2 separate regions of the Homo sapiens genome follow, and region 1 is linked to region 2. The links come from fine-mapping of genetic effects on gene expression. A gene starts in region 2. The other region holds a variant in brackets. All regions are shown on one strand. Distances are between the middles of the regions. Region 1 has its middle 29 kb from the start of AFF2. Region 2 holds the start of AFF2 (ALF transcription elongation factor 2).

What was found. PIP is the estimated chance that this variant, and not a neighbour inherited with it, causes the effect.
Region 1: its variant is the best candidate, but not a certain one, in a credible set for the expression of AFF2 in whole blood (TOPMed, PIP 0.62).

The regions. Positions count from the first base shown.
Region 1 is chrX:148,464,240-148,479,889 of GRCh38, reverse strand. It overlaps the pseudogene RPL7L1P11. Among named protein-coding and RNA genes, the nearest start is that of AFF2, 29 kb to the left of the region's middle. The variant C/T (reference allele first, on the strand shown) is at 6,501.
Region 2 is chrX:148,490,095-148,505,615 of GRCh38, reverse strand. It overlaps AFF2 (ALF transcription elongation factor 2), which reads right to left and starts at 4,999. Exons shown (of 21, transcript NM_002025.4): 1 at 4,472-4,999. The coding sequence starts at 4,518. RefSeq lists an enhancer at 3,462-4,339.

The sequences.
Region 1 (15,650 bases), 26 kb after region 2:
CTTTACCTCACTGATATTAATAGAATGTTCTACCCAGCAGCAGCGGAATACACATTCTTTCCAAGTGCACATGGTAGGCCATATTCTGAACCATGAAATAACAGCTCAACACATTTGAAAGAATAGAAATAATCAAGTGTATTTTTGGACTGTAATGGTCTTAATATAGAAATCAATAACAAAAAGGTATCTGTAAAATACCCAGATGTTTGGAAAATAAACAACACATTCTAAATAACACATAGATCAAAGAGGCAATTGGAAGAAAAATTAAAAAGTCTTTTGAACTGAATACATTTTGATACTGAATATCAAAATCTGTGGGATGCAGTTAATGTAGCACGCAGAGGTAAATGTATATCATTAAATGTATACATCAGAAAAGAAGAAAGATCTAAAGTTAGTAACCTGATTCTACCTTAAATAACTAGAAAATAAAGAGCAAGTTAGATGCAAAGTTAAGAGAAGAAAGTAAGTAATAAAGATTAGAAGAAAGCTCTATTCAATTGAAAAAAATAAACACAATAGAGAAAATCAATTTGTATTCTTCAATACACAGCAGTGACCTTTACATTTTTTCTTTCACGCTTCCTCCTCTCAATTTTAGTTACGTTATTTCCACTTTATCACAATAGATGATTTTTGTGTGTGTATATGTCACCCTCACTCATACTTTTTGTCTTAGCTGTACTTTTATAGTTTTAATATGTCACCATATGTTCTTTTGCAGAAGTTTCACAGTCATAACTTGATTGGATGAAACTTATCCCCTAGTGTATTCCACAGAACAAGGTGATGAATATCAAATTCTTTAAATTATTGAATGTTGAAAACTGGTTTTCTAGTCTTGAAACTTGAAGGAGAGCCTGATTGTATTAATATGTACAATTATTGGTTTATACTTTATTTCATTGAGCATTTTATTTTCAAAATGCTGCTTCATTGCTGTTCTGCTTGTATGTTGATTATGAAAATTCTGTGCCAGTCCAATTGTTTTGTAAGTTAATCGATCGCTTTGCCTAGAGGCCTAGAAGATTTTACTTTTATTTTTTAAATGTAATCATGTTACCAGGTCATGTTTTAGAGTTGAAAATTCTGTTAATTTCCCTAAGTACTCATGGGTCAACTCAGGCATTTTTCTATTTCTGGGAAGATATTTGTTTCATAGTTTTAAATATTAGTCCTGTTTCAGTGTTTCTGCATTTTTTCTCCAGGGACTCCAATAATAGAAATATTATTCCTTCTTTACCTCTCTTCCATTTCCACTACCTTCCTTTTGACTGTTTTTTACTTATATTTTGTGGTCTTTTAATCTTTTTGCTTTTTTTTCTCTGCCCCTTATTGCATTTTTTTTTCAATGCCCCTTATTACATTTTCATTTCAACCCATTCCTTCTCCCTTGGATCCCTTGTAATTTATTCTTCTTTTATAAGATAATTTTGTATTTTTCTTCCATTTATTTGCAGAGTTTACTCATCTCTCTTACTTCTTCCAGTGTTTAGTTCATTTCTACTTTTAGTGTTTGACTTTCTGACTCAAGGTAGTTTTTTATAGCCTCACAAGCTTGTTTAAATTTATTTAATTCTATTTGGTGTGTTGACTTACTTCTTTATATGATTCATAGGTTTTTTTTCGGGGGGGGGGTTCCTCAGTTCATATATATGATATTTTGTTTCCTAATTTTCTGTCATAGCTTTGTTAACTTCAGTTTTCTTTTGTTCATTTTTATGGTACTGAGTTATTTTTATAAGACTGCAAATTAAATGCCATCTTCTTTTGTCAGTATAGAAAGGACCAGGTACTTTGGCTGTGATGTGGGAGTTGTAAGTGCTTAGATGATGTGGTTCTCTTTTGTCTTGCAGGGCCCTAAATTTCCCCCCTTTGCCTTTGTATTCCTTTTGACTACCCAATTGTCAAATATTTCTTTTCCTTTCCTTCTTACTTTTCTTCTCCCTGCCAAAGCTATGTGTTTTGAAGCCAATTCCTTCATATCATGCCTGCTCTTTTACATCATGCCTGCCTGCTTAAAGAGTGCTTGACTCCTTTAAACCATATGTGCCCCTTTTAATTATGTATAATTTTAAGTTCTCTCCTTATAGTTCATGTTCTCATCTTCCTAGAAACTTTTTATTTTAGTATTTTCGGGATTAAAGTGGACTTACTCTTTCTGGAAGTAGATTTAAAATAAACTTAGCACATTTTCCTAGCTTCCCTCATTTGTCTTCCCTGAGGTTTTTTGTTTGTTTGTTTGCTTACAGTCTGCCTTTGCTGGCCACAGAGCCTTACAGTAGGACAGACATGGGCCAGGACCACGAGAGATGAAACTCTGGGAATAGGTGAATTTTATCTTTTCACTCACAGTTACTTTGAAGTTTGGGCATTCTCTGTCCTTAAGCTATGATAAGGGCATGGTTTTTATATTGATTCATTTCTTCCTTTTTTTGTCATTTTTGTAGGCTACATTAGCAGGCAGGTTGCAGGCTGCTGTACTACAATTACTACTTGATGTCTGTTTATGTTTTTTTTTAGAGATTTAAAGATGCCTTTTATCCCAACATTGTAGATACTAAGTTTACTCCCTTTTATGGAGGGTAGAAAATAACAAAAATATTGCTATAATTCAATAGAGATTAAAAGATAAGAATTTAAATTTAAGGTGAGAGGACTTCCCATTAGCAATGGACAATTCAAAATTTTTGATATGAAAATGATGTCTAATAAAAAAATTCTACTATCAGGCTCCTCCTTCGTATATACTTTATTAATCTTTTGCTTTTGCAATCTAAGTGATGGATGACATGGGCATTTCTAAGGAAAAATGTTATTCACCTTTCTAAAACTGCCAATATTCCCTATGAATACTTCTTATATTCATTAGGAAAGCTTTAGGTTGAAAGTAACTAATACCGGATGATGAGTATAGTTTGAATCTATGAGGATATTCACTGTTAAGTATGAAGTAAGGCAGTCTCATTGTTGAGCAAACAGCTTAACAGTGTCCTCAAGAATTCAGGCTCTTTCCATCTCTTTATTCTGCTACACTCAAAGTTTTGGCCTTTGGGTTTGTGTGTGTGTGTGTGTGTGTGTGTGTGTGTGTGTGTGTGTGTGTGTGTGTGGTGAGGTTTTATCACCTTATGGTCACATGAAGGCTGCTATAGCTTCAGACATTATGTCTTCAATTTAGCAGGAAGAATGAAAAGGAGAAGACACACGTGCTTTGTTATCAGGAAACCACAATAGTTTCCCCAAGTCTCAAACAAATTCTGGCCAAACCTAGCTATAAGTACCTAGCCTTCCAACATCTGTAGGAAGCAGGGAGAAGAGAGTTGGAAATGGCTGTTGAATTTTCCAGCCAACAATGTGTATGCCAATGGTTCCAAAATAGTTAAGTGGTGCCACTAGCAGTTCTAGGAAAGACATCCAAGAATACTTGTAGTCCAAATGCTTTCTAAATGACAATAATTGTCATTGACACTTTAAGACTACTTACTATAACCAAAATATGGAGTTCAAAGTTTTTCTCATTCTGACCATTCTGTTGTACTTACACCCTCTGGCTTAAGGAAGGGGTACAAAGCCCTACTTGTGTATTTGGAAAGATGGTGTGGGGTACTCAGCGGAAGTGTAGGGAGTATGCAAGCAAGGCACAGCCTACGTAACTATAGTGCTCTGTTGCTTGCTTAGTGCTTAGAGATGGTGACATTGTCTGACTGAGTGATTAAGAGACTGATAATGTCACTGCAACATTGTGTCACTGAAAAAAAAAATGAGTACAGATAATGACCTGGTTCCTTTTTGAGTGCCACCACTTGAGAATACCCACAGTGCCCTCTGCATATTCTAGTCAATCAATTGTAAAGACTGTTGATGGTTTATAGGCTTTCAAAATTAGGGAATTAGGATTAGGGAACAACAAGGCATCGAAATAGAATTTAGAAGCTCAAAGAAATCAAACCACTTTTCATAAATTCCTAATGGAAATACTGGGTATGGAAACTGATTTGGGCATAACCATTAACATATAACACTTACGAATGCTTCCACTATTCTTTCTGATATGATTCATCTCTGTATTTATCTGTTTTGACTTCAGTGTAAACTATACCAGCTGGCATCCTAGTGGAATAGGAACATTATACAGTTATTAAACAACAACAAATTATATATTACACATGACATAAAGATAAACAACCAATAGTTAATTCTTATAGGAGAATAGCAAAACTTTTTCTCAATACTGAGAATGAAGTACAAAGCTCTGGCATTTTATTGTTTGCAAAACTTTGATTTGATTTTATCCTCCCAAGAAAACAGAAGACGTATTATTGTTCTTACTTTGCAGATGAGAATCATAGGCTCAGAGAGGGGAAATGACTTGGCCAAAGTCTCCCTGTTTCTTAGTGAAAGTAGTAGGACTTGACCTTAGGTTTCCTGAGTCTTCATCCATTGCTCTTTCCACCTTTGCAGGCTGTTTCCTGGACCACTTTGTGGTTCAGGTTTCTGAAATAATATATTTCTGACTAGTTTATACCCCTGTTGTGCTAAATAGAACTGAAGTCTCAAATCTGGGTCCACCTGGGACCACTATTTCAGATGAATTAACTGATTTCAAATGTCTTGGTCCACTGTTTCTGTCAATAAATAAGGCATTTGCCATTTTTTGTTGTTTTTGTTGTTGTTGTTGTTGTAGTTGAGATGGAGTCTTGCTCTGTCGCCCAGGCTGGAGTGCAGTGGCGCGATCTCGGCTCACTGCAAGCTCTGCCTCCTGGGTTCACACCATTCTCCTGCCTCAGCCTCCCGAGTAGCTGGGACTATAGGCGCCCACCACCACGCCAGGCTAATTTTTTTGTATTTTTAGTAGAGACAGGGTTTCACTGTGTTAGCCAGGATGGTCTCGATCTCCTGACCTCGTGATGCACCCGCATCGGCCTCCCAAAGTGCTGGGATTACAGGAGTGAGCCATGGCATTTGCCATTCTTATGCTAGTTTCCTTTTTTTTTTCTAGCTGGACATAAGCTAGAGAGTTAACTTGTATCATGATCAAAAGCAAGAGGTGATTTGCCAACAGCAAAATCCTAATGCTATTTATCTATAAAAGGAAGATAAACAGATAATGCAAAAAATAACCCAACCTTGATATTTCAGCCATGTAGCCATGTAAAGTCAAATAAAACCATGATAGAAAAAATAAAAAAGATTTCACTGTTCGATTTTCCTCTTTATTCTCCTTAATAATACAACAAATACTGTACTTTACTTAGAATGATTTTTAAATGAACTACTAAAATGACCCAGTCAAAAAGCAAGAATAAATTTGACCAAAGTTTAAAACCAATGTCAGTTTTCAAATTTCTGCAGGATAAACATGACCTTATTGCATTTTAAATCTGTATAATTTTACAAAATATGATGCTTAGTCTCCAAGAAAAATTCTTTTAAGACTTAATAAGTTACTTGGATAGTATATAGCATATTCTTATCTGTATTTTTCTCAAATACACAGATTCACTATTCTATTTTTAAAAAGTGTTTGAAAAGGGCATTTGAAGTTTTCACAGATAACTGAATAATGGTTTGCAATGTTCACCACGGTAAAAACGTAGTTTGCTTGGTTCGCTATGACTAATTATTCTGAGAGATACAAATATGTGCACTTATGCTGAAAAGCTCTCTTGTCCTGCCCTCTAGCATGCAACTTTTCATGAATTTTATGCAAATCTCTGTATTCAACAGCAATTTTTATTTGAAAAATAGAACAATGAGTAGCATAGAAAAAAATAAGAAAATTAAGGTCAACTTTTCTATACTCTGGTCTTTTATCTTCACGATCTTCACATTTATTTTTACTGTTCCAGCAAGATTGGCTTCTTATTTTCACTGTTTCAGCATCAGCAGGGTATTTTCTGTAACAGCTCCATATGGATGATGTACATGCTTCTTGGCTTATATCTACTCATATGTTCATGATTTAACACCAAATGGAAATTACAGCCAACTCTCAATGACCCATAAAAGAGAGGGGCATTGTAGTACAGATAACTCAAGAAGTCCAAAAACCCTAAGTCATTTGTTTGGCTTTGGATGTGTTCTCTATCTTAGCTTAGAATACTTTGTCTTTTAATTAAGCCTACTTTCCTAATTGTGTTTTATAAGTCAGTATTTTCAGCAAATGAAAATGTAAATAATTCCAGTCAATGGGGGAAGTTGATTTGGAGGAATGTTGCATGGAGTTGTGGGAAGCTGATAGAGGCATTAAAATTAATGCAAACAATTCACAAAAAAAATACAGTACATACAGATAATCAGGCATTGACTTTATTATACTATATTCAAAAGGTGAAAATTATGCCTGCTTAGTCCTGTGCATGCATACCTGGGATAGTCTTATCATCTATAGAAAATGCAAAATAACATTTCTCTGTGTATATTTACCCCTTGTTGCATTATTTTGACTATGATCATCTATTTCTAAAAATGACATACCCGACTAAGAAGTAAGG[C/T]GAAACCAAAAGCATCAAGAAAAATGTAATATTAGCATTAGGCAATGGAAGCATTCAAATCAGATACTGCTTAAAGGTAAGTCAGTAAAGATTTAAATAAGCTTAGCCAGAATTCCAAACATAGAAAGGAAATAAGATTCAATATTCTTTGCATAAGTAGGGGAGATTTTTACAAATAAAAGCACCTCATGTGTGCTTCTATGAAGTGTTTAAGTTCTGTGGCTTAGATAGTTGTGTAAAGATTCATGAAAATAAGGTAAATTTGACTCCAATATTGGCTCTCTACCAGGTGCCTTTTTATTATCAAAAAAAAAAAAAGAAAAAAACAATGTAGTCATGCCCTCCAATACTTGCACTGTACCTCCTATGGTTTATTTTAGCATGGTCTCTTATTATGAGGGTTGACATTGGACCTGATTTCTTTTGATTCTAAATCTGTGTATTAGCTTAATATTTCTTCTGTTCAATCCTAGATCTTTTAAATTAATTGGAGAGTTATCATTTTATGTGGTTTAATATGGAAAATTATCAGTAGAAGATAGATTCAAGAAGGCACAAGTTAAAGGTGAGATGGAGGTATGGCAAGGCTAAGGCGTTTGCCCTGGCTAGGAGGTTCATTTCAGCACATGGAATGGACCTGCTCAAGTTGTGGGCAGAGAAGGAGGTTCAGGAGAAGATATAAAGTGTGCTTTATATCATTTGATAGAGACCATCTTAGTCCTGCTTTATTGAGATCTAGACTTGCATAGTCCCTCCAAGCTCTTGAGAAGCAGAGTGCCAGAGTGGGAAGATCAGGCATGGCCTTTATATCCAGAGACCTGGTTGGAATTCTAGCTCTGTCACTTGCTAGGCTTGTGACCTTAGATAAATTGCTTAGTCTTCCTTAGCTTCACATTCCCCATCTATAAAGTGAGGACAATATTAACTAGTGCACAGTATAGTTGTGACTATTAAAAAAAAAAAAAAAAACTAAACATGAGTCCTTGGCGTGAATCTCAGGCCTTAAACACAAGTATGTAAAATTTGTGACTTCTTTTTTGATAAATCAATTTAATTCCTTTTTTAGTGGTCTCCACTTTGCTAGATGGAAGACATACCATCTCAGTCAGGTCAGGGGCTCTCTCTTTCCACTTACCTCTGGAGTTCCAGGGTCAAGTGTACTGGTCGTCAGCAGGCTCCATCTTCTCATGTTGGCACCCTGCCTTAGTATGTTTTGTTTTGTTACAACAGAATATCTGAGGCCGAGGAATTTATAAAGAACAGAAATGTATTCTCTCACAGTTATGGAGGCTTGGAAGTCAAAGGTCAAGGTGCTGACATCTGATCTGGTGAGGTCCTTCTTTCTGCATCTTCACATGGCAGAAGGCAGAAGAAGAGACAAAAAAGGAATGGAACTTGCCCTTGTATAACAGCATTAATCCCATACATGAGGGTGCAGCCATCAAAGACTAATAACCTCTTAATGGTCCTACCTCATAATACTGTTTCAATGACAATTAAATTTCAACATGAGTTTCGGAGGTGAAAAACATACAAACCATAGCACACCCACACAAGTTGTCACTGTTCTGACTCTCACTGTCCTCTGTGGGCCCTCTCCCCATTCTGGCTTTCTCAGTCCTGGACTCCATCTCTGGTGTATGGGAAACCATCCAGCTCCTCTTTCTTGCTGCTCTGGGACTGACAGAAGCTGAGAGGCTACCTCTGTATCTTCAACCTAGGGACATCCTCATCCATTTCAAATCTATAGCTGCTCAGCCATGTTGGGTTCAAGAGAGATGTCTTTGAGGCTCACTGCTGCCTAGTCCACTACCTGCAAAGTGTGGCACAAGTCACATCTGTTATTGAAACCCTAGAACCTGCCTACAGTTCCTGTAATCCAACCCTTCCCATGTTAGTCCATTTGTGTTGCTATAAAGGAATACCTGAGGCTGCCTAATTTATGAAGAAAAGAGGTTTATTTGGCTCATAGTTATACAGGCTGTACAGGAAGCATAGTGCCAGTGAGGTAGGTACTACTTTTGGCACTATTTTTGCAGGTGGAATAACGGAGGCACCGAGAAGTTAAGGGCCTTTCCCAAGGTCACATAGCTAGCATGTGGTGGAGTTGGGATTTTCACTCATACAGCCTGTCTGTGATGGTCACACTTTGATGATGATACTATATTGCCCCTCAGAGAGTATATACCAAGGGAGTGGGTGAGGAGGCTGATTCAGGCTGGTCGCATGCCTAGACATTCTAGATCTCAGCATGTGAAATTCACAAGCCATGAATTTGGCTCTCATTCCCTTTTCATTTCTGTTGTAGTATCCTTTCCCCGTGTCAATGAAAAGAACAGAATGAGAATGCAGTACAATATGTGTCCCTTTTGTTGGGGGGGGATAGCAGCTAATTCTTCATAATTGGTATTCTGCTGCACTTTTCAAGCACAGATAAGTTAGTTCCCAACTTCCTCTTCAAATTCTGTATCATGGAGTTTGCCCTCAGAACAAAAATTTGCTCCACATAAAACTTAGTTCTACACAAAATGTTTTAACATTAATATTCAATTTTTAATGAGAAGATTCTGCTTCCTTTATATGTTTGTATTTCAATTAAAGAAAACACTAAGCCTGCCCCCATAACTATACTTGACTATTCAGAAACCTTGGAAATCCTGGTGAAAGGCGGACAAGTTATAGCAAAGGCCTCTGTGCTGTCCTTTCTGAATCCAGCCAGTTTGGTAGATCACCACAGACACAAGCATAAGGCCCTGCACATAGTAGGCCCTCAAAAATAGTGGTTGATTGATTGTGAGATGCCCAAAAGGAAGAAGATGTCAAATGGGAAAATTGCTCTTGCCATATGCTTGACTGGATGGTCATGCATGGCTGAGCATGTTTCTCCTGCTCTCCATAGGTGTGCTCCACTGTCACTGTGCGACATTTGTGACCTCTGAGGGTTCAGAGTTCATGTCCTCCTCTTCAAAGGCTTGGGTTCTATGCCCTTCTCTTCTTAGAATAACCCCAGAAGGGCAATTAGGTTTTTAGAAAATGGTTTTCAATGGAGATGATGTTGCCTGCACATTATTCAGAGCAACTGAGTGGCTGGTAGGCAGTGACCCTGTATTTCACAGCTCTCTAGTTCAGTTATTTTGTAAGAATGCCATAGATGACTGATTAGTGTGTTCTCAGCTTCCAGATAAATTGACAATGGTAAAATATGGACATCTCAGAGAGTCCAGCCATTTTCTTGCAGCTTATGAGAAGTGATGACTTTTAGAGCTTCAAAGAGAAGTAAAATGCTACAACCAGCTAGAAATGCAGATACACACCGCTGCCAACTCCCCATTACAATTCTCTGTCTTTCAAATGGAGATTAAATGCAGTGCCAAAATGTGTCATCTGGTGTTGCATTTTTGTAATGTGGACAAATGTCGATAAAATTCATGTGGAGTCACAAAAATCTAACTATTTATGAATTAAAATTAAATGTAAGTTTTGCCATAGGTAGAAGCCTTAATTGCTAAGGCTAGATTCAGTGCCATTATCAAAACAGCAACACTTCCTTCCTGCAATCACCAGTTCAAAAGGAGAAAGGGGAAACTGCCCTCTCTGACAAGCTACTGTTCATACCAAGCTTTACACCTGTAATCTCAATGGGTGCCATATATCAGACCTGATAAAAGTGAATCAGATGATTTTGGGACTGCCTACTGTGTAGATAGTTGTTACATTTCAATCCATCTAACAAACCCATTCACAATTTTGGCAGGCACAAGCAACATATTTTGCCTTCAAAATGTGCTTGTGTCTCGCCATGCTCCCCTGGATCAATCTTTATTCTTTTTCATCCATATAACTTCCCTCGCAAGACCTTTAGACCCTTGCCAGGAAGCAGAGGAAACTAAAATCTTCCTCTATTCAAATGTTCCAAATTGGACTATCACTACTCTGGGTAGTATGACAATAACTGTTATATATTTCAAATTCTTGCTGATTGGCTATCTGATATTCATGATTTACATTCACATTTTAATATGAAATTCTTCCCCATATGCATGTGTTTACACTAATTTCAATGAAATTTTTAATTTATTTCACTGTCAATGGCTGCCTGTCCAGTGGATCTATACAGTTAGCACTGCCTCTTCACGGGAGAAATTTCATCCGATGAGTGAAGTAACAACTCTTGGAAAGTTGTTTACAGAAAACAGCTTTTCAGTAACATGAGAAGATTATGACTTGAAGCATATATGCCCAGCATTTTGCCTCAAGAATTTAGCCTTGCAGTTGACCATGGCAGATATAAATGGCCAATCCTTGGGGAACGATGGCAGAGAGAAACATGGTAAGCTCAAAAGCTTCATATATTTCATCATTAGTAATATATCAAATACTTATTGAAGATCTTGATTTCATCCCTTCTGGACTCCCTATGTTTATGACAGCCAATTCCAACATTTCATCAAGCTTCCAACTCTACAAACCCTCCTCAGTTGACAACCTCACACCTTAATTTACTGACACAAGTTTCCTCAGTTTTCTTCTCATTCATGCTAAAATTCCTCTCTACCTTATTCATTTTTTCTACTATCTCTCTTTTTATAATCCTCTTTCTTTCCAACTCCACTTCTTCATTGTCTACTTACTCCTGAACTTAGGGTTTATATTTTCAGCATGCTACTCAACATTCTCTTTTGCAAGCAACTATGATCCAACATGGTTGGATCCAACATGCTCTTCCTCATTGAACTATGACCTATTGTAATGTTGACATTTCCTTCTAGAAACTCTTTTTCCTTGGCTCAGGCAATCTTACAAGAAATATATGGTTTCTCCTCTTGCCTGAGGGCTCCTTGTTTTTCTTCACTGCTTCCTCTTCCAAGGCTTTGTCCTTCACTTTTTTTTTTTTTTTTCCTCTTTAGAAGCAAGGTTTCTAATCTTAGGAAGAAATGGAAAAGCTTCTGAGGGTTCCAGGAAACCTTGGTAAGTTTATGCCAAATTGTATTTGTGTGTACATCTGTTTATGCATTTGGGTAAAAGGGGCCATAATTTAATTGAATTTCAAAGAAGTCCAGGACCCTGCAGAAAATGTTAAGAACTTTTGCTCCAGACTTCCTTCCTGGGCAATTTTACCATCCTCCAGTGCTGAAATGATTGCCTTCCAAATCTCAGTCTTCCACCTGACCATCCTCTTAATCTTTAGCTTTTTAAGTATCTCTGATTCTTTATGTTTCCTCCTGGTATACAGTAGTACTACACATTAGTAAATATACTCTCTATGGAAGCCACAACAAGTGAAGCACTCATTTTACCAGCCCTACTTGCCGGGTACCCATATGGCAGCTCTGCACAAAAATTTTAAAGTGCACCTTTCAGGGAGGTCCAGTGCTATGGGTACATGGCTTAGTAACAGGATGGTAGTTTTGTGGGGTTTTTTGTTGTTGTTGTTGTTGACTTTTCAATATTGTATCTCCATCATGCCAAGCCTGCATTCAAGCTGATTTTGAAGCATCTTAGTCTGACTCTCAAGGACCTCCATGATCTGGTCTAAACCCTATGCTTCTAGCATAGTAACCCACTAATCCTCTCCAAAAAGCTTCCACTCTAGCCAGACTGGTCTGCTTATTGTTGCCCGGACAGACTATATGCATTCCTCTGCATATTTGCTCACCATATTTTACCTACCTAGAATCTCTGCCTCTCCAACATGTTAGACTGAGTGAGTCCTCTATACTTTCACATCTTAGTTCTAGCTCTACTTCTTCTAAGAAACATTTTATAATAACTCCAGTGCTTACTGACTTCACCTTCCTATAAGATCTTGTTGCCCTTATTGTCTGTATCACACTGTTGACTGTGAGCACTCTTCAGTCTTTGACTTCTAGTACAGTGCCCTAGGACCTTGGCATTCAAAATGTGGTCCATGGACCAACAGAATGGGCAGTACTTGGGAGCTAGCTAAAAATGAAGAATCTCATAACCCACCCCAGACCTACCAAAAAATACTCTGCATTTTAACAAGATCTTCAAGTGATTCTTACAAATGATAGAGTTCGAGAGGCAGTGCCCTATGTCATGCATTTGTAGTTGTTAAAATATCTTAGTTTCAGTCCCTGAATATACCTTATGTTTCATGACATTTTACTTTCTGATCATGCCTTCTCTGTTCCCTATTACTTTTCAGAACTCTATGTATTCTATGATGCTTTTCCTATATTCCCCCATTGAAAGTATATCTCTTCTTGAATTACTTTGATGCCTCTTTGCTCATTTTCTACATGTATCTTGTATTAAAGGGCATTTTGTGTGCAGAGGTATTAACTCCTTTGTTAGATTATAAGCTCTTTGAGGGTAGGAATGGGATTTTCTTCATCTCTGATCCTTGACAGATTCTGGCAGAGTTCCTGACACCCAGTAGTTAAAAATAATAAATGTTTGCTGAATGAATGAATGAATGAATGAATGAATGGCTAATTTCATAATAAATTCATTTGGATTTTAGAATTTACTTGGGAAAAATGTGATAGATAATTGACCATGGGTCGTGCTGTTCGTAATTGCAATGTTTTTATTTTTCAAGCCAAATATTAATTATCTAACCCAGTCATGCTGTTTCTTAATGACTTTTAAACCTGTACCACTATGAATACAAGCCTGCATGAATTTTTAACAGTCTCCAAGTAGTTCATAATTAAAGACCAAGTGATTCAACTCACTGTCGCAATCAATGCCTTTGTTTATCGCTTAGTTTTCATCTCTGTATAGATAACCAAGAAAAAAAAGCTAACAAACCACAGAAAACAAAATCGGATGATAAAGAAGTATGAAAAAGTATCTCACCACCCATTCTGTGTCTGAATGACTAGTAATGAAAGGGAAAAGTGTCAGTAGCCATTCAAGTTAATCAATATACTGACTCATCTACTCAACAAATTCTAGATGAATCAGAGGTCTTTGTGTTTCAAAGTTTATGACTCATATCTCTTAAACTCTGTGGACCTAATCACAGAAACTAAACAGGGGAGAAAACGAAATGATCCAAATCCAATCTTTGAGCAGTGCAAGAAAAAAAGAAACTTTCTGAATTAGAAGTCATCTTCTTCTAGAGGCTTAACAGTTTCAGATGGATTTCTCCAGTTATCTAAGAGAGATCAGTCTGTATCCAGTTTCTCCTTCTGTCACAAAACGCAACAGTTTCTTTTTGAGATCAAAATGATGTTGCCTTATATTAGAAAGTGATTGTAGTTATTAAGGTGTTTTGAAAGTCTTTTGTTTACTGACTATGACCATTTTGGAAGATGATTTATCTGTTAGATTGACTTTTGAGAAAAGAACTGGAATACCTGGTTATACAAACATGAAAGTCCCCTAAAATTATATCCCACAGGTCTACTGCTCTAGATTCTTCATTGTGAATACACTCAAATCTCACTAAGTAGGCTAGTAAAGAGAAAAGTCAATATAGCAGAAAGTATTTCTCTTTCTTTCTTCTTTCTTTTTTTTAGAGACAAGTAAATATTTGTTTTCGTGCCTTACTTCCTATGTGTATTTCAAGTCTTTTTCAAAACGAGGCCCCAGGAATCTCCAGATTCAATTATGTCCCTGGGCTTGGTCGACTGCTGCAGGAGTCTTAGGAAGCCTTATACAAATGCTAGAGCTACTCATTTACCAACATTAAACCTGGGATAGCAGATGCAACAAAGCAGGACTCCTTCCCCCATGGAATGTGCTGATTTCAGATGAGGCGGCAGCCACAATATAGAAAACACTGGGAATTTTTCCTTGGAACTGGGCTGTGATGAGAGGTGCTTGCCATGAACATAAGCTACTGTCTTTTCTTTGACCCTTCCTTTCCAGTTTTTGAAGACAAAGCAGGAAATAATCTTCTCTGAAGATACTTGATAAAAATTCCCAGAAAACAAAAACACATGCTTCCACTTCATTGATAAAAATTTACTGCAGTTTGGCACCTGGGTCTAGTTCAGCTGGCAGATGAGCTGATTGATGCATTCACCCTGATAGCCAGGTGTGCCCATCTCCTTGAGGAAGCCCACTCTATTTTTGGTAGCATGATGGGCCACTGAGAGGTGGAAAGGGCACAAGAACCATAAGATCTCCTGGAAATGCTTCCCTGGGAAGGCAATTTCATAAATGAGGTCTTTCAAGAAAATGACGCCAACCTTCCCCAGGTGCTCCTCAATCACTGTGTTGTCTGTCAGAGGGATGGTCTTATTCTTGACCTTGGATTGTCCACGTTTCAAAATGAGTTCCCAGACAGACTTCAGATTTGGAAATCCCCAGGTCACACAACGTTCCACTATACGCAGCATTTTTAGGTTCTGGGGGGTGACTTTTACAAAGACACCACTAAAAATTTTCTTTAGGCGAAGTCTTGCAATGGTCTGCACCAGTAAACTCACGCCATCAATCCTTTCGATGCATACAGCAAAGGCCAAGGAATGTTTATCTGGCAATTCCAAGTCATGAGGTTTCACTTCTAGTTGTCTGAGATGCACCTTGTCACATTTCTGTGACTTGACAATCATGTAGGAATGACTCCAGTTGCTTAAACCTGAGCCCTTTTCCTTTCCTCTGCTCCTTCTTTGCCAAAAGTGCCTGCTTTGCCTGGGTGGCTTTGAGGGCTTGATAAACCTTCCTCTTTTTCAGGAGATTTTCTGGAACCAAAGGGATTTTTCTTTGCTCTTGCTCTGCCATCTTTCTAGTGTTGCAGCTACTTGCAGAAAGTATTTCTTAAGAGCTGGGCTTCATAAGCTATAGAGAGGCAGTAGAGAATAGTGGCTAAAAACATGGTGTTTGAAATTGAGCTGATATGGATGCAAATCCCAACTTGCTTTCTTAATGTTTGTGTAACACTATGTAAGTGCCTCACCTATGAAGTGGGGATACTAATAATGCCTGCAGGATTAAGTGAGAAAAATGTAAACAGTGCTAACCAAAGTACCTAGCACTTAGTGAGTTCTCTGTAAGATTTAATAATTGTTATAGTAGCTGTTAGTAAGGCTGTATCACTGCCTTTCCCATGCTCACTTCCTGGTCAGCAGTCTGTCTCATCTATGGATTCTTCCACCATCCATGTCCTTTGGAGGCTCATTTGACTGTCCCCTTCTCTAGGCAACTGCCCTTTTTTTCCTCTTCACTATTCAC
Region 2 (15,521 bases):
CAAAATAATCTTAGCTAAGAATCATGGGCATTTATTACATGTTAAAGGTTAGTACATTAAAGCCATTTCTATTCAACAATAATTAGCATGTTTAAATACAATATAATTTGTATCCATCTACAGGATGCTTAAATGTATGGAATCTCATTCATGTCTATAATGATGGACTCATTTTCCAGGCAGTCATTTTCTACCTTGATTTGTATATTTTAAAGTTGTTAAATGCTTGACTGAATCATTAGCAAAACAATTCATGTATCATTAAACTGATTTCTACCATGAGATAATTTTCTTCCGTGTCCAATAGATGTGCCTCTTAAGATGTACTGAGATAGCTTTTATTCTTTGGAGGGTTTGGGGAGTTGCGGAGGAGACCTTACTAGTGAATTTCACCAACTTAAATTTCTCCTACCCACACATTCCCTTAAGAAACACAACCTAAAATGGTTTGTTGAATGAATGCTCAAACACACGGGAGAATGCATACTGTACTAGCAAAGAAAACAGACCATAGGCAGTCTCCCTTTTAAGAGACCACAGAGGGAAAACGGGAAAGATAAATGGATGGAGGTAGAGAACAAGAAATGCTGGGAATCTCTAGGCCTTATTCAAAACAGGACTTCCCCTCCCCCCACCCCACCACAGCCCTAGTATCTCCAAGTTGGCAAAGGTTGTGTTCCCCCCATCTCCCACACCTTCCCATCCATAAACAGTCCTGTTCCGCTCTTCTGGAGGATTGTAGCTAACGAGGCCTCGGAAGACCTGTGCGCACAGAACAGGAGGAGGCAGCCGGGTTGCTGCAGTGCATGGGCCATGCCCGGCTGGAGCTGAAACAGTTCACTTTTGTCTAGAAAGCAGCCCCCCGCCCCTTCTCCGGCACTGCCCCGCCCTCGCAAGGTCGAAGAAAACTGGGGAAAGTGCAGTTCGGACTGCTGGGGCAGGCCCTGGGGGCTGCCTTTACCGGAGGAGGAGAGGCCTGGCCGGCACATGGCCCCTTCTCAGCCTTGACAGCCCCACACAGACCTTTGAACTTTCTATTTATATAACAGTTTAGTGAGTTTAAGTCTCTTCCTGTATAACTGCCCGTTTGCAAGCTTGCCTCTAATTAGGCTATTTGTGAGACATCACATAAAAACTACAAACAATTGATGCTGTCCCTTGCGGTGAGAAGCCAGCCACTGTCACAGTCACTTAACTACGATTTTAACTAGGCTTTTGAACGTTCTGATTTTGCTATCACGGTGGTTTTCTTTTCTTTTCTTTTCTTTTTTTTAAGAATGTGTCCCTTTCTGTATTTTCTTTCTTTTCTTTCCTTTCCTTCCTTCCAATGAAGAAAAGGTAAGCATCCCCACAAAGAACCTTGGCTTGTCACAAAGCAATACCTAATCAATACTGGGTGGGAGGTGCTTACAGAACTGAAAGGCTGTACATTTTGTAGGCCCTCTGAATTTGCTTTTTTTCCCTCTTAAATGGGGATTAATGACATCATTACCTGATCTTCAGTCACCTCAAGTATTCATTTACTTGGTTACCAAAAACAAGTCTATGGAATGATTTAAATGAAGAAATTTGATTTTTTTTTAATTTATCTTTTTCTTTAAGAGCAAGTGATGTCTTTCATGCACACAGACAGACATCTGTGCCATCTTTTTCTTTCACAGAATGGTTTATATTAAATTCAGACTCAGGTGAACATTGCTCATTCATCCAAGAATCTTAAAGAACTTGAGCTTTGGCCCTTTAATCGAGTCCAGAGCATGACCCATTAAGTTATTCTTGCAGTTTGTGAAATCCAGTGGTATGTTCCATTAGGCATGTGAGCATTCCAAAACACTGCACATAACATGCACACTGCAGCATCATTAGTACCCCATCCTTTCCATTTGCATTTGCCCTAACAAATGTGTGTGTTTATAAATGGGCACACACTTTTTGTTTACTACAGTCAAGTGTTTGCAAATAACACATATGCCTGTGTATGTAAAGTCTTTCTTCATTATGTCTAGGAAAATGAGTTTGTTTTTAAGCTGTCCTGATCCATTTATTGTCAGACATCTAGGGTTGCAGTAGAGACAGCTCAGAGCTTACTGTTCCATAAGTGAATGTTAAGAATAAATTCAAGGTAAATAAGATCGTTAACTTTGCTGGTCTTTTTTCCTTTCTTGGCCCTCCTGGGGGCTTGGGGGCGTGGGGAGTGGAGGCCATCACTTTAAGTAGCTATTTACTCCCAAGGAATGGAAGTAAACATATAATGAACACGTAACTGGCATGCTCTGGACTTCCAAAGAGAAGTGGGAAAGGTACCAATTTCCACTCAAGACAATGTCAAGCTTTTTAGTTCATCCACTATTGTCACATTTATGTTCCTTTTCTCTGTGGAGCTATACAAAACACAAAAGCACAACCACATTACAAATGTTTATAAACAGAGATGCATCACGAAGTGTGCCACTCACGAGCAGTAAGAAGGAGAAATTTTCCTGGATCATGTACAGAGGGAAAGGACAGGCTTATTTATGCAGATGCGTTACACTAATTAATCAGTATTTCACATAATATTCACGAAGTGTCCAAGTCTATGCTTCTTAACTGATGTGTCTCAGTTAGGGATCTGGAGGAAAAAAAGGTTTTGCATTTTCCTTAAGATAAGAAAAAGAAAGCCTCCCACAGGGGTGAGGGAGCCTATCATTTTTTTTAAAGAAATCAAACATAAAAGAGTCCATTCCCTTTAAATATGCAATTGCATATGCATAAGATTAAACCGGAATTAATATAAAAAACATGTTTCTAAAAACCTAATACCTTGTATATGTTTAACATTTGAACTATACCCATGAAATTAATTATAACAATGTCTGTTAAATTAACGATGTAACCCACACCACATATTAGGCAAATTGTATGCAAATAGAGTGCTATGGTTATCAGTTGTCTGCAAAATAAATTAGTGAAGCAGAGTAAAGGCTGTGTGCAGAAGCATAATATCTAATTGAGCAATAATTTTATAGTAATTTTTACTTTCAAATAACAGCATTTTTTAATGTAACAATGTATTTCTACAGAGCTGATAAAACCGTGGTATCCAAAACGCCTTATAGATTAATACTGATACAGCATAATTTGCGCTTCAAGGATTTATCCGGAATTGCTGTAAAATAAAATGTATTTAAGTTCTGACTATCTTGGATTTGCAACTAAAGGAGGCATGATTGGCATAATGAAGCTGTTGGCTAAGCATATGACCCTTTTTTAAAGAAGGAAATTGCCTAAAATATCACATCAACAGGGGAAATCCTTGTAAAAATACACAGCATTCATAACCAACGGCCGCTAGTAGTTTAACATTGCAAAAGATTTCGCACTATTGGTAGGTACTACAGATCATTCTAAATACATTTTAAAAGGCAATAACCAAGAATGCAATTTTAAGCGGTTACCACTGCGCCCCCTCCCCATCTAATTCCTTAGACTGCGGGGGGAATCTGATACGTTTAAGTATTATGACAAATAAACTGTGATAATGTTTGTAGTAGGTGAAGTTTTTGAAAAGTTAATAGATATGTATATCAGTATTTATGCACACGCGCACGCACATCTCTAAGAGAGTTAACAACTTTCCAGGTCCCCAGTCACCTTTCTACCATCTTTCAAAATGTCTCAGCGACAAGTTTAGGGTATTTTGTGAAGAGCTGACTCAACCTTTGAATCTGAGCTGGAGGTCCCTTACAAAAAACTACGGCTGCCTCCCAGTGGGAGGCCGAAGGGGGTCCATCCGGTAATTAAATGTGCATTGACATCAGAGCTGCGGATTTGGGGGGCCAACTCCGAAAACCCTCAGTCTTGAAAGCCAAGCGCCGAAGTCGGCCTCGAACCAAGGTCCCCTGAGTGGTGGCCCCCAAAGCCGCTGCTCCACCCGGGAGTGCAGGGAACTTGGGCTGAGTCGGCAGAAGGAAAGGTGTGCGCGCCGCGCAGCGCAGGGATGGAGGTGGCGGCAGCGGGGGCGGTGGCCACCAAGGAAGCAGAGGGCTGCTGGCCGCACCTGGCCGTTGCCTTTCCCCCATGGCCCGCCGCGGGCGTTGGGCACCTGGAAAGTTGAGACATTTCGGGCGGGCGGCATCCGGGGCTCAAGGAGGCCAGACCGGCAAGCCGCTCCGAGAGAAAAGCTCCTGGGAGGTCGTGCGGTTCAGCCCTCGGGCGGCACCGAATTCGATGTGAGCCAAATGCAACTCTTTAGACTTGGAGCGCAAAGCGACGCTTTCGGGTCCGCATCCCTCCCTCTTCCCGCACCTCCCCCCACCCCGGCATCCGACCTAGGAGTCAGCGCGGCCGGGGCCAGAGGTGGCTGAGAGCAAGTGGGAGGGAGTCCGGGGCGCCCCCCACGACAGCTTCAGCTCCTCTTAACAAAGGCGAAAACCTCAGACTTCGCCAGGAGACTCGCTCATCAAAGGAGAAGGCAAAAATCAACACCTACCACTGCTGCTCCAAGTCCCAGTCTCTGAAAAAGTCGAATAGATCCATAGCGGCCAGGCGGCGGCGGCGGGCGGGCGCCTGTCCCTGATCGCAGCGGGTCGGCGCGGCTCTCGGCACAGCTCGCTGGCGGTTCTCGGCGGCCCCCGGCTCTCCAGCCCTCCCGCCCAGCTAAAAGTGTCCGGGCCGCATCGGCAGCAGCAGCGGGCGCTGGAGGTGTCTGGTCCTGTGCTCCGGCGAGGAAGCGGCGGCAGTGGCACTGGGCGGGCAAGCGCCTGGTCGCCCACTCGGGTCCGCTCGGTCCGCGGTAGCCCGCGCACCCAGCGACCCGACGCTGCGGCGGCAGCCGCTGCGGGCTCAGGCGGGCTGGGCCGCCCGCCTGGCTGGCTGCGGGCCGGCGGCGGCAGCGGCGGCGGGGGCGGCCGGGGCAGAGGCAGCGGCGCGGCGCGGCAGCCGGGGCGGCAGCGGCGGCGGCGGCGGCGGCGGCGGCGGCGGCGGCGGCGGCGGCGGCAGCGGCTGCACAGGCGGCGGCGGCGGCCGCGGCAGCATCACACACTTACACACTCACAGGGGGCGGAGCCTGGACAGCTAGAAGCCGCGACATGGAGCAGGCACGTTATCATCCCCGGATCTGGCAGGGGCTCGCCGCGCCCGCCCCTGCCTTTCGGGAACCCTCTCCCACCCCCCACTGTCAAAATCAGCTAGTGGGAGCGGCCACAGAGCTGAGGACCCGGACCCGGACCCGGGACGCAGGGGCCGTGGCAGGGATACAGGAGGTGGGCTGGCGGGACCAGGACGCGGGCTTCGGGAATGGGACCCCTCTCTGAAGCCCAGCCCACCCCCACCACTGGGAATTAGTTTTGAACTAGAAAAGACAGCACAAACAGCCGTGGGGTTGAAGGTCGCCCCCTGCCACCTCAAGCACAGCTCCTTGAGCCCCCGAGTAGTGGAGCAAACTTTGCGGGCCTGAGCATCCCTCAGGTCTGTAGTGCGTAGCACGCGGGTCCAGGAAGGAGAAGGCGGTCACCTTCACCAGCCCCGTGGCTCCACGTGCCCGCACCCAGGCCCTCCAGGCATGCCTTTAGGCGCGCACCTAGTAGGTCAGCGAGCTATAGGCCCTGGATTCAGTGGGCAGCAAGGATAGGAACAAATGACTGCCCTTGCGTGGTCCTTGAGTTCGGGGTTAGGATACTGTTAAACTGGGTTCCACTGTCACTTTCCTCGCACGGTCACCAGGTGCCTTGAGCAAAAGACTTCTGCTAGCTCCTCCTCTGAGAAATGGGAAAACCACTGGGTGTGTGCCCAGTATCCCACGCACCGGCTGCCCGTCTCCCTTCTGGCCTGAAATTCTCTTTCTGCACGTGGAGGGTTTAACCGAGCCTCCTACTCCCTTCAACCTCCACCTCTGATCCAGGAAGGAGTGGATCCCTTTAGCCAATTCCCTGGAGGGAAAGGTTCCCTGGCCTCCGTGCAGAGAAAGGTCTGTGGGAAGGGGCGGGACCGCTTTCTGGCATTTCAGGACATGAGCATTCTGGAGTCCTAGGCATGTAATTTGCCTTCTTCGTGTCGTTATACAGAGGGAATAGTATTGGCACATTTTTCAAATCCTAAGGCTAGAACTCTCTTGGGAAGGACAGCAGACTGAGCCCTGACAGAGCAGGGTGCCGGTAGCTCTGTGTGTGACTCCAAGCAAGTCACTTATCTGGGCCTCAGTTTCTCCATAAAACACCCAGCAGCCCTCTGGCTCATACTTCTCTGACATTCTCCCTTCTATTTGAATATGCTTCTACAGTATTATCTCATATTACCAAAATCATCCAAATACCTTTTAACTTCATTTTTTTCCTGAAGAAACAGAGACCCTAAGACATTAAAATGCTCAAGATCTGATATTTCCCCTAGAGGGGGATCCCAGATTAGAACCTAGAACCTGGGAAGCTCTTCCAGGGCTGGAGCCAGTAGAAGGTGCCTCAGCTCCAAGCATGAATGACTTCAGCATTTGAGCTACAAGGGGCCCAGGGTCTGGTCTCTTTCACATTGTTTTACGGGGGGAAAGAAAGCACATCATTAACATAGAGAAACAAGGCTCTAAGATTCTGCAACTCAAGCATCCACTGGGACTTTGCTTAGATGTCTATTTACTTTGCATGGGACCAAGTCCTCAACAGATGCTGGTTGACTGATGGAAAATCAACCAGTGGGCAGCCAAGGGGAGACGACATCTCAAAGTGGCTTGTAGATTTGGCTACCTGTAAACTCCTCTGGTCAAAAAGACTCTATGGAGAAACAGTTATTGGCAAAAATGGTGCTGGGGATTTTCAAATTATCTCTGTGACTTATTTATTCATGGAATTCTAGTATTCAGCCCTGGACTGAGAGCCCTTAAAGCAACAAGGACGGCCTCGCTCAGATCTGTGGCCCCCGACCTTTATGCCTTCAGTAAAAAATCCTCAAATTGGATTTGATTGCTGATGATGGTTGCCAGCATTAGTACTTGATCTGCTTGAAAATCCTTAGAGGAAAGCCAGAACACCTACAATTAACATTTAAATGGTGATTATGGTCACTTTATTTCTGGTTTACTTTTCTCACAAAATTGTATTTAATGGGGAAAGATAGAAAAAAAAATAACATGCTAGGCAAACAAATTTTCAACAGAAATAAAGCTGCCCCTTTAAGAGTTCCAGCCCCCCATCACCTCACTGGTGCACTTTCTTCCCAATCAGCAGGAGGACCAAGCAGAAGCAGAAGGAGCCAGCAAGAGGCAGCACTATGAACAGAAGTGCCTGCGGGAAGGAGAGAAGAGACAAGTGGTGCCGGCTGCTGCTTCAAAAGAGGGGCAGGGGCTTTCCCTTCCTGAGATCAAAACCAAGCAGGAAGGTTGGGTTGGGTGGAAGGAGCCCCCACTTCCTAGCCACTCTCCTCAAACAGAGATGAGGTTAAGACAGGCAACACTGAAGGGGCCAGGCTGTCCCTGAGGCCTCTTTGGCCGGGCCTGGCACCTGCTCACTGAGCATCAGCTACTGAGCAAGATAGAAGCTTTGTCTTCTCTGATCCAAGGTGTGCTTTCTCCCTTCCTCCTCACTCTGTGCATCCGTGGCTCTGATGGGGCCAGGGGCCCTAGAACTCAGCTCTTCAATGAATCCTCAAACATGTGGGCAGGATGCTGGATCCAAGCCATGCTTCCTCCACCAAAAAGCTAGCAGGAGGGTGGAGAAAGCACTTTGCATGGAGGGCAGTAGCAAGAGGAAATAAAAAGGCTATCTGGAGGGAGGGCCCACTGCTGCTGTCATACTGGGGTCATCTAGCTGTCATCTAGCCTGTGGTGGGGATCCAGTTGCTTCCCTCTCATTCCACTCACTATGGCATCTTAGCTATGGTGGAATACTCCCCCTCACCAGCCTAATGCCTTTGTTTTGGCTGGAAAAGCTCCTTTCTTACCTAGCAAAACCCACCTCAGGCCCCAGTTTCAGAACTCTCAGTTCAACCGAATATTTTAGAAACTGCAGGCACAACCTTCTCTCCCTCTGACCCTTCTCCCTCTGTTGGCTTCTCCCATTCTGACTGTCTCCCCCACCCCTGCCAGTGCCTCACCAATTTCCCCTAGTCACAAAACCCCAACCAAAAGGAACCTACTGGGAGAACCCGTAGGCCAACAGAAAGCCATCTTTTCTGACAGGAAAGGATCAAAACTGAGACTCCATGCCCCAATCCACTGAGATAAAACCAGAAATTGTTTTTAAGAGGGATTGGTTTTATAGAAATGCTGATTTTCAGATTTTCTAAAGTGAGATTTTTGACTTGAATTACTTTTAAAGGAGTTTAATTTGTAGTCTCCAGGTACTAATCTTTGTTTCAAAGAACTTGAAATCCTCCATTTGTACAGTCGTACTAAAGGCACTGTCATGCAGGTTCGGGTAGTGTCTAAAAATTAGGATTAGTTTAAGAAAGTTGCACTGTGCATGTCAGTTACAGGAAATGAACAAATTGACAACGTGTGATACACATGTCATCATGTCACACCACAGATTTCCACTTAAAATATTAAGCATTTGTTTCTGACCTGGTATGCTGTCAGGCTGACTTACTTTCTAGGAAGAAATTACGATCCAGGTTACAGCTCATTTGGGGAAGCTTGCTGGAAAGAATTCCATGGGCACCATGGGGACTACCACCTTTCATAACCGTGGCTCCTCTTCGGACAGAGCCACTTGGTGCTGCCATGAGTTTAGAATGGAGTGACATGACTCTGAATTTGGGGCAGTTTCCACACATGGGCTGCAATGTCCAGAATGATTCTTCTAAAGAAATACTTCAATCTTTTCTCTCTTTTTTTTGAGACGGAGTCCCACTCTGTCAACCAGGTAGGAGTGCAGTGGGCAGTGGTACGATCTCAGCTCACTGCAACCTCCGCTTTCCAGGTTCTCCTGCCTCAGCCTCCCCAGTAGCTGGGATTGCAGGGACACGCCACCACGCCCAAGTAATTTTTTTGTAGTTTTTAGTAGAGATGGGGTTTCACAATGTTGGCCAAGCTGGTCTCGAACTCCTGGCTTCAAGTGATCCACCCGCCTCGGCCTCCCAAACTGTTAGGATTACAGGCGTGAGCCACAGTGCTCAGCCTATTTCAATCTCAGTTCTCCCTAGAAACTGTAAGCCTTATGAGGGCAGGGCCTGAGTCTATGTCATCAAAGCCTAGGATGGTATCTGACACATAGTAGACCCTTCCAGGATCTATCTAACCAGCTTCTGTATAGGTAGCAATCTCAGGAGTTGATTTCAAATTGGGTCAGGACAATTCTCTGAACTTCCTGAATATGCATATGTAATTTTTTTTCACAACTCCTGTTTCTACCACTTATACTTTGGATCTCAATCATGCATCATGATTGAAAGACCCTATACTTGAGTTTTCTGGTTATCATAGGTAATGATCCCATTTCAGAGCTCTTCTAAAGTCCCTGGCTCTGGATTCCTACGAAGTCCTAAATATCAAACACCATCTGACCTTATGTCAATCATCTGCTTCATTAGGTTTATGGTATTTGAAAGGTCACGTTATTCTGATTTTAGATGATATGTTGCTGTAATTCCTTTTACATATTTAGCATAACCATAAAAGAGATAACATTGATTGAGCCTCTATATACCAGGCACAGTACTAAGCGTTGTATATACATTATTTCATTTACTCCTCAGCATGATTCTCTGAGGTAGATACTAGTATTGTACTTACTTATTTTGTAGGAGAAAGCCAAGGCTCACAGAATCTGAGTATTTACTCAAAGTCACAGAGCTCATAAGTGCCATAGCCAGGTTTTGTCCCCAAGCTGGTTTGCTGGCAAAGCCCATGTACTAATCCACACTGCCATACTACCCCCATTGTGCATTCACAAAGTATTTCATCTCACTTTAGCTCTGAGAGGTAAGCAGAGAATTAACCATACTCTCCATTTGACAGTAGAGGAAACAAGTTAAAGTGATTTCACCAAGGGCACATGGTGGGACAGCTGAGCAGCTGGGGCTGGGCATGAAATCCAGTGCTTGTTCTACTTACCACATTGTTGTTTATAGTCTCAGGGCCACCCTGATGAACTATAATACCCTGGGAGTTTGGGACTGAAGTGGCATCAGTTAACTGTTGGATTAGAAAAAAAATTCTCATGGTGCAATTTCCCTGATCTCAACTGTGGCTGAATTGGAGGAAGGCAGTTGACTGAGCCATGCCCTTGTATTAATGAAAGTCAATCTAATAGGCAACAGGAAGCAAGAATACGGTGGAGCAATTCTTGCTTCATCATTTAAGAAGACTCAGATGGGGCTTTTTCCTGGAGATTATAAATCTAGGGCTAAGAAACCTCTTTGGCCAACTGTTGGGGAACACATGTTGGTGGGCTGTAAGGTGTCCACAGGGAGTTATCTTCTGCATATGACTATGCTGCTATGCAACGACGAATCCCTGGCTAGTTCTTCTAACTTCTTGAGGGCTCCATTTTCTTGTGTATAAATTAAGGAAGTGGGAAACAGTCCAGCTCTGGCATTCTATGGCTCCTTGATTTGAAGTCCCTTTATATAACCTCCAGTCCATGGCCAAATGCAGATTCGTAGTTTATAATGATGAGGGAGGCAAAGTGAAGAGTCATCTGAATTGCCCAGATCAATAATCTCCATGTCTGATATGGTGATTGAGAAATCTACTTCCTGGAGCTCCGAGTGCTATCCCTGGGCTGCTCTCATCAACCCATTCAGCAGTGTGGCTGCCAACAGTTTCTTCCTGGAGCCAGCTATACAGAGCTGAAGGACTGGATTCCAGAGGGAAGTCAAGCATTTTTCCAGTGGCCAGAGAGGAAACCTAATGTATATGAGAGTGCTTTGTAAATGGTAAAAAGCCCCAGATAAATGTGTGCTCTCATCATCCCTGGAGCTGATGTCTTAGAGGCTTCCCCATTAGGTGACATCAGCAGTGCTAAGTGTACTAGCTATATTTGGATGTTTTATTCTAGTTTTTGTTGTTGTTGTTGTTAGTTTGTTTACAAAAGGGTATATATTAACCAGGCATGGGTTCCAGTTGCAAGTTTTCATGCTTTTAAAGTAATATTTATTAAGATATATAAACTTCTTTCTACGTGGTAATCATTTTTTGGAGGGAGTTCAGATCATTGATTTTCATACTGAAACATTTAAAGGGATTTAAATCAGTGTCTTTGTTTAAAGCATCCTGATTATTAGCATCGTGAGAAACTTTTATTTTTCTAATAAGTTGCTAACAATAAAATCCTCGGCGGTGTCATTAATAGAAATGAAATGACTGCCTAAAGTCAACTTTTAGCTGCTTCTGCCTTTTTATTTTCAGGAAATGGAATGCAGTAAGCCCCTCAAGCTCTGAATTATTCTTGAACGCTTTGATGCTTGGGCTCAGTGATGGCCATCAGAGATACAATTAGGCTGTGTTGTTCTGTGGGTGAAAGGAGAGCAGAGGCCTCAGCCTCCAGAACTTTTGCCTAATCACTTCACCTCCTGGGAACTGCTGCTCCAAAGAGGCCATGCTTCTCTGCCACTAGGTGGTTCATCCTTCCTCCTTTCACAAAAGTCAAACCAGATCTGGATGATCAGGATGACCCAGAGTTGGCCTGGATTGTAACAGTTAAATGGCTGAGGAGACTTTCCACCACTACCCCAATGGCCCCCCTCAGGCTCTTTCTTCCATAAACCTGCAACCTCCCCAATGAATGAGATGCCTCTGGACCCACCACCAATGATAATGGGATCTGTTGTGAACAGGCAAAAAAGTGCCTGCCCATTTCCACCCCATAGTCTACTTTGCATTGCTATGAGGGATCCAACCAGGCCAAAATGCTTTCACAATCTTCTGAGAGACCACAGCTTGGAAGAGGGCCATATCCCTCACCCAGCTGCACTTCCAGGTGTCGCACTTGTGCCTCACTCAATAGCATCTTCTTAGGTCAACTGGCCATGCTTTGAGACTTTACTTATCAGTGATGACATTTTAGTCATGTACATTTCTCAGCAGGGTGATGGCCCCAAGATAGCCTTTTTCTTTTCTGCCAGCATATAGGGTTTTTTAAAATATCATAGAATATCAGCACTACCAGGAACCTTATTGATTATCTATAGTCCAGTGGAGGCTCAGGTTACTCACCAAGATTGCACAGCTAGTTATATGAATCAAAACCATAAGAAGATCCCCCAAGTCTCAATTGAAACTCAAATTATGCAGTCTTGAAATCTTAAGCCACTGCATCTTATACCATTTTATGTTTTAAAATACTTATCATTTGAACCATAAATTAAGGAAAAACTTATGCTTTGGAGAAAAATGAAAATTCCATCCAATACTCTGTAAGAGAATGATTTACTTTTTTTGAGGATTGATTATCTGTGTAATCAACTATCTTCAAGAAGTGTTCATTAAGCTCCCAGTTTAAGGTCCCAGGTTAAGTAGACACTTTGCCATACCATTGCTTGAAAGAGAAAATGGTCAGCTCTACTTGGAAAGCACATGCAATTCACTTTATTTAAAGCATGCCTTCCTGGAACAAATTATACTGGCACTATTGAGTGTAAGGTGGCAAAGTAATTCTCAGTTAAAAAATAAAACCCAAAAGAAGGCCACAGGCTCTAGGATGGGAAATGTTCTGGCTGTACTTTCATTTTCTAGTATCCTCATTAGTAATGTGTGTTTTCTCCAACATGGTGTCATTGACGTAGCATATGTAAAGTCCTACATGCAGCCCCCCCTTCTGCCTCCCCAAATCTTCTATCACGATAGAATCCTGCCTTCCCCATTCTGATCTGCTGGATTGTGTATGGGAAAATGTTTCACCTAGGTCAAATGGCAACCATATTCTATCTCTGAAGCAGACAAAACTTTTGCTTACTTTTCTCATTCACCTCGAATGCGTCAGAGGCAAATGTGAGTGTGAAGAAAATCTTTTGATCTCATATTCAAGAGCTAATGAAGAATGGAAATGTTACCTAGTATTTTCTTTCCATTTTCACATGCCCCAGTTTTGGCCAAAGTGTCTGCTTTTAACCAAAAGCATATTTTAAATGAGTAGGTTTTTCAGTGCATTAACCTTTATTACAGGCCTCCAAGCAGCCAGTTAGAACCATTACATAGCACTCACCAAAGTGTAGTTTCTAGAAGTTCACTGATAAAAAGATGATAGAAACTTTCTGCAGTAATTTTGTTTATAGTTAACATTTTTTAAAGGTTGAACAGGCATCAGGACCATTTATGGGAACAAGAAGTTTATAATCTCTGTGAGATTTATTTAAAAAAACATAAAATAAGGAAGAAACTTCTAACAATAAGTCCATTAGGAAAGGGCCTAGTGTTCCTCTTGGACATCCAAAGTACCTCAGTCAGCAATTAATTTGGTTCAGAGTATGTAGGCTATTGTGATGCGTAAACAGAGGCTTTCTATACAAACTGGGGATAATATAGAAAAATTGTAAAGAGTTCATTTAGAGGTCCCAGGTGCCGAAGAGTATGCCTACTGACAAAAAATGTAGGTAGCAATTCCTGACACTTTGAACTATATAACCATGTCCTCTATAAATGTTGAAGCATTAACATGTAAACATCAATATCAATATTGATTCATTGACATGTAAAATTTTAAAAATTGCTGAAAACAGAATAAAAAATTTTGACTAAAAACATTTAAAAATTTTTTGATATATAATACCAGTATATATTTTGAGGGTATATTTGATATTTGATATTTTGATACCTGTATACAATATGTAATGATTAAATCAGGGTATTGGGATACCCATCACCTTAAATATTTATCTTTTCTTTGTGTTGGAAACATTCCAGTTCTTCTATTTTAAATTATTATTAAACACAATAAATTATTAATTATAGTCTCCTAACTGTACTATTGAATACTGGAACTTATTCCTTCTTTCTAATTGTATTTTGGTACCCATTAACCAACTTCTCTTTATAGTCCACCTCCCCTTACCTCTAAGCCTCTGCTAACCACCATTCTATTCTTTATCTCCATGAGATCCACTTTTTAAGTTACCACATATGAGTGAAAACACGCAATATTTGTTTTTCTGTGCCTGGCTTATTTCACTTAACCTATGACCTTCAGTTCCATCCATGTTGCTGTAAATGACAAGATTTCATTTGTTATGCCTGCATGATATTCCATTGTGTGTATATATACCACATTTTCTTTATCTATTCGGCCATTGATAGATATTTAGGTTGGATCCCATATCTTGGCTATTGTGAATAGTGCTACACTAAATGTGGGAGTGCAGATGGTCTTCAATATACTGATTTTCTTTCTTTTTGGGTATGTACTCAGCAGTGGGATTGCTGGATCATGTGGTAGTTCTGTTGTTTTGTAAGGAACTTCCATACTGCTTTCCACAGTGGCTGTAGTAATTTACATTTCCAGCAACAGTGTATGAGCACTTCCCTTTCTCTGCATCCTCACCAGCATTTGCTATTTGTTGTCTTTTTTTTATAATAACCATTCTAACTGTCTCTTAGATAAATGCCTTTTTAACTGGGATGATAGGATATCTCATTGTAGTTTTGATTTGCATTTTCTTAATGATTACTGATGTTGAGCATCTTTTCACATACCTGCTGGCTATTTGTATGTCTTCTTTTGAGAAATGTCTATGCAGGTCTTTTGCCCATTTTTAGTCAGATTATTTGGTTTTGTTTCTTACTATTGAGTTGTTGCCAACTCATTTTTGACAAAGGTGCCAAGAACATACTTTGGGCAAAGGACAGTTTCTTTGATAAATGGTGCGGGGAAAACTGGAAATCTATATGCAGAGGAGTGAGACTAGATTCCCGTCTTTCATCATACAAAAAAGTCAACTCAAAATGGATTAAAGACTTAAATCTAAGACCTGAAACTATGGAACCACTAAAAGAAAACATCAGGGAAACACTACAGGATATTGGTCTGGGTAAAGATTTTTTTTTTTTTTTTTTTTGATAAAACTTCAAAAGAACAGGCAACAAAAGCAAAAAAAAAAAAAATAGACCAATGGGATTATATCAAGCTAAAAAGCTTCAGCATAACAAAGGAAACAGAGAAAGTGAAGAGAACCTACAGAATGGGAGAAAATATTTATAAACTATCCATCCAACAAGGATTTAATAACCAGAATATATAAGGAGCTCAAACAAGTCAAGAGGAAAACACATAATCTTATCATAGAATGTCTCAACTCAAGGGAAACTTGAAGATTATGCATAAGTTATGACATTTTGCAACTGAGGAAACGGATCAGAAAAGAACAATGAGCAAATGAAGTTTAAAAGCTTTATTAAAAACTCAAAATTTGAACCCATGTCTTCTGCTACAAGCCTAGAGCTCATTCCTCTCCATCACGATGCCTTTTCTGAAAACACACCAGTAGTCAGAATCCTCTAGAAGAGTAGCACAACTCCTCAAGCTCACACAAACTAACAAGGCATTCCTTCAAATGAAATATCAAAAAATGGGGAGAAGGGATTGAGACAATAGCCACATGAAGAAATATTACTCAGCCAT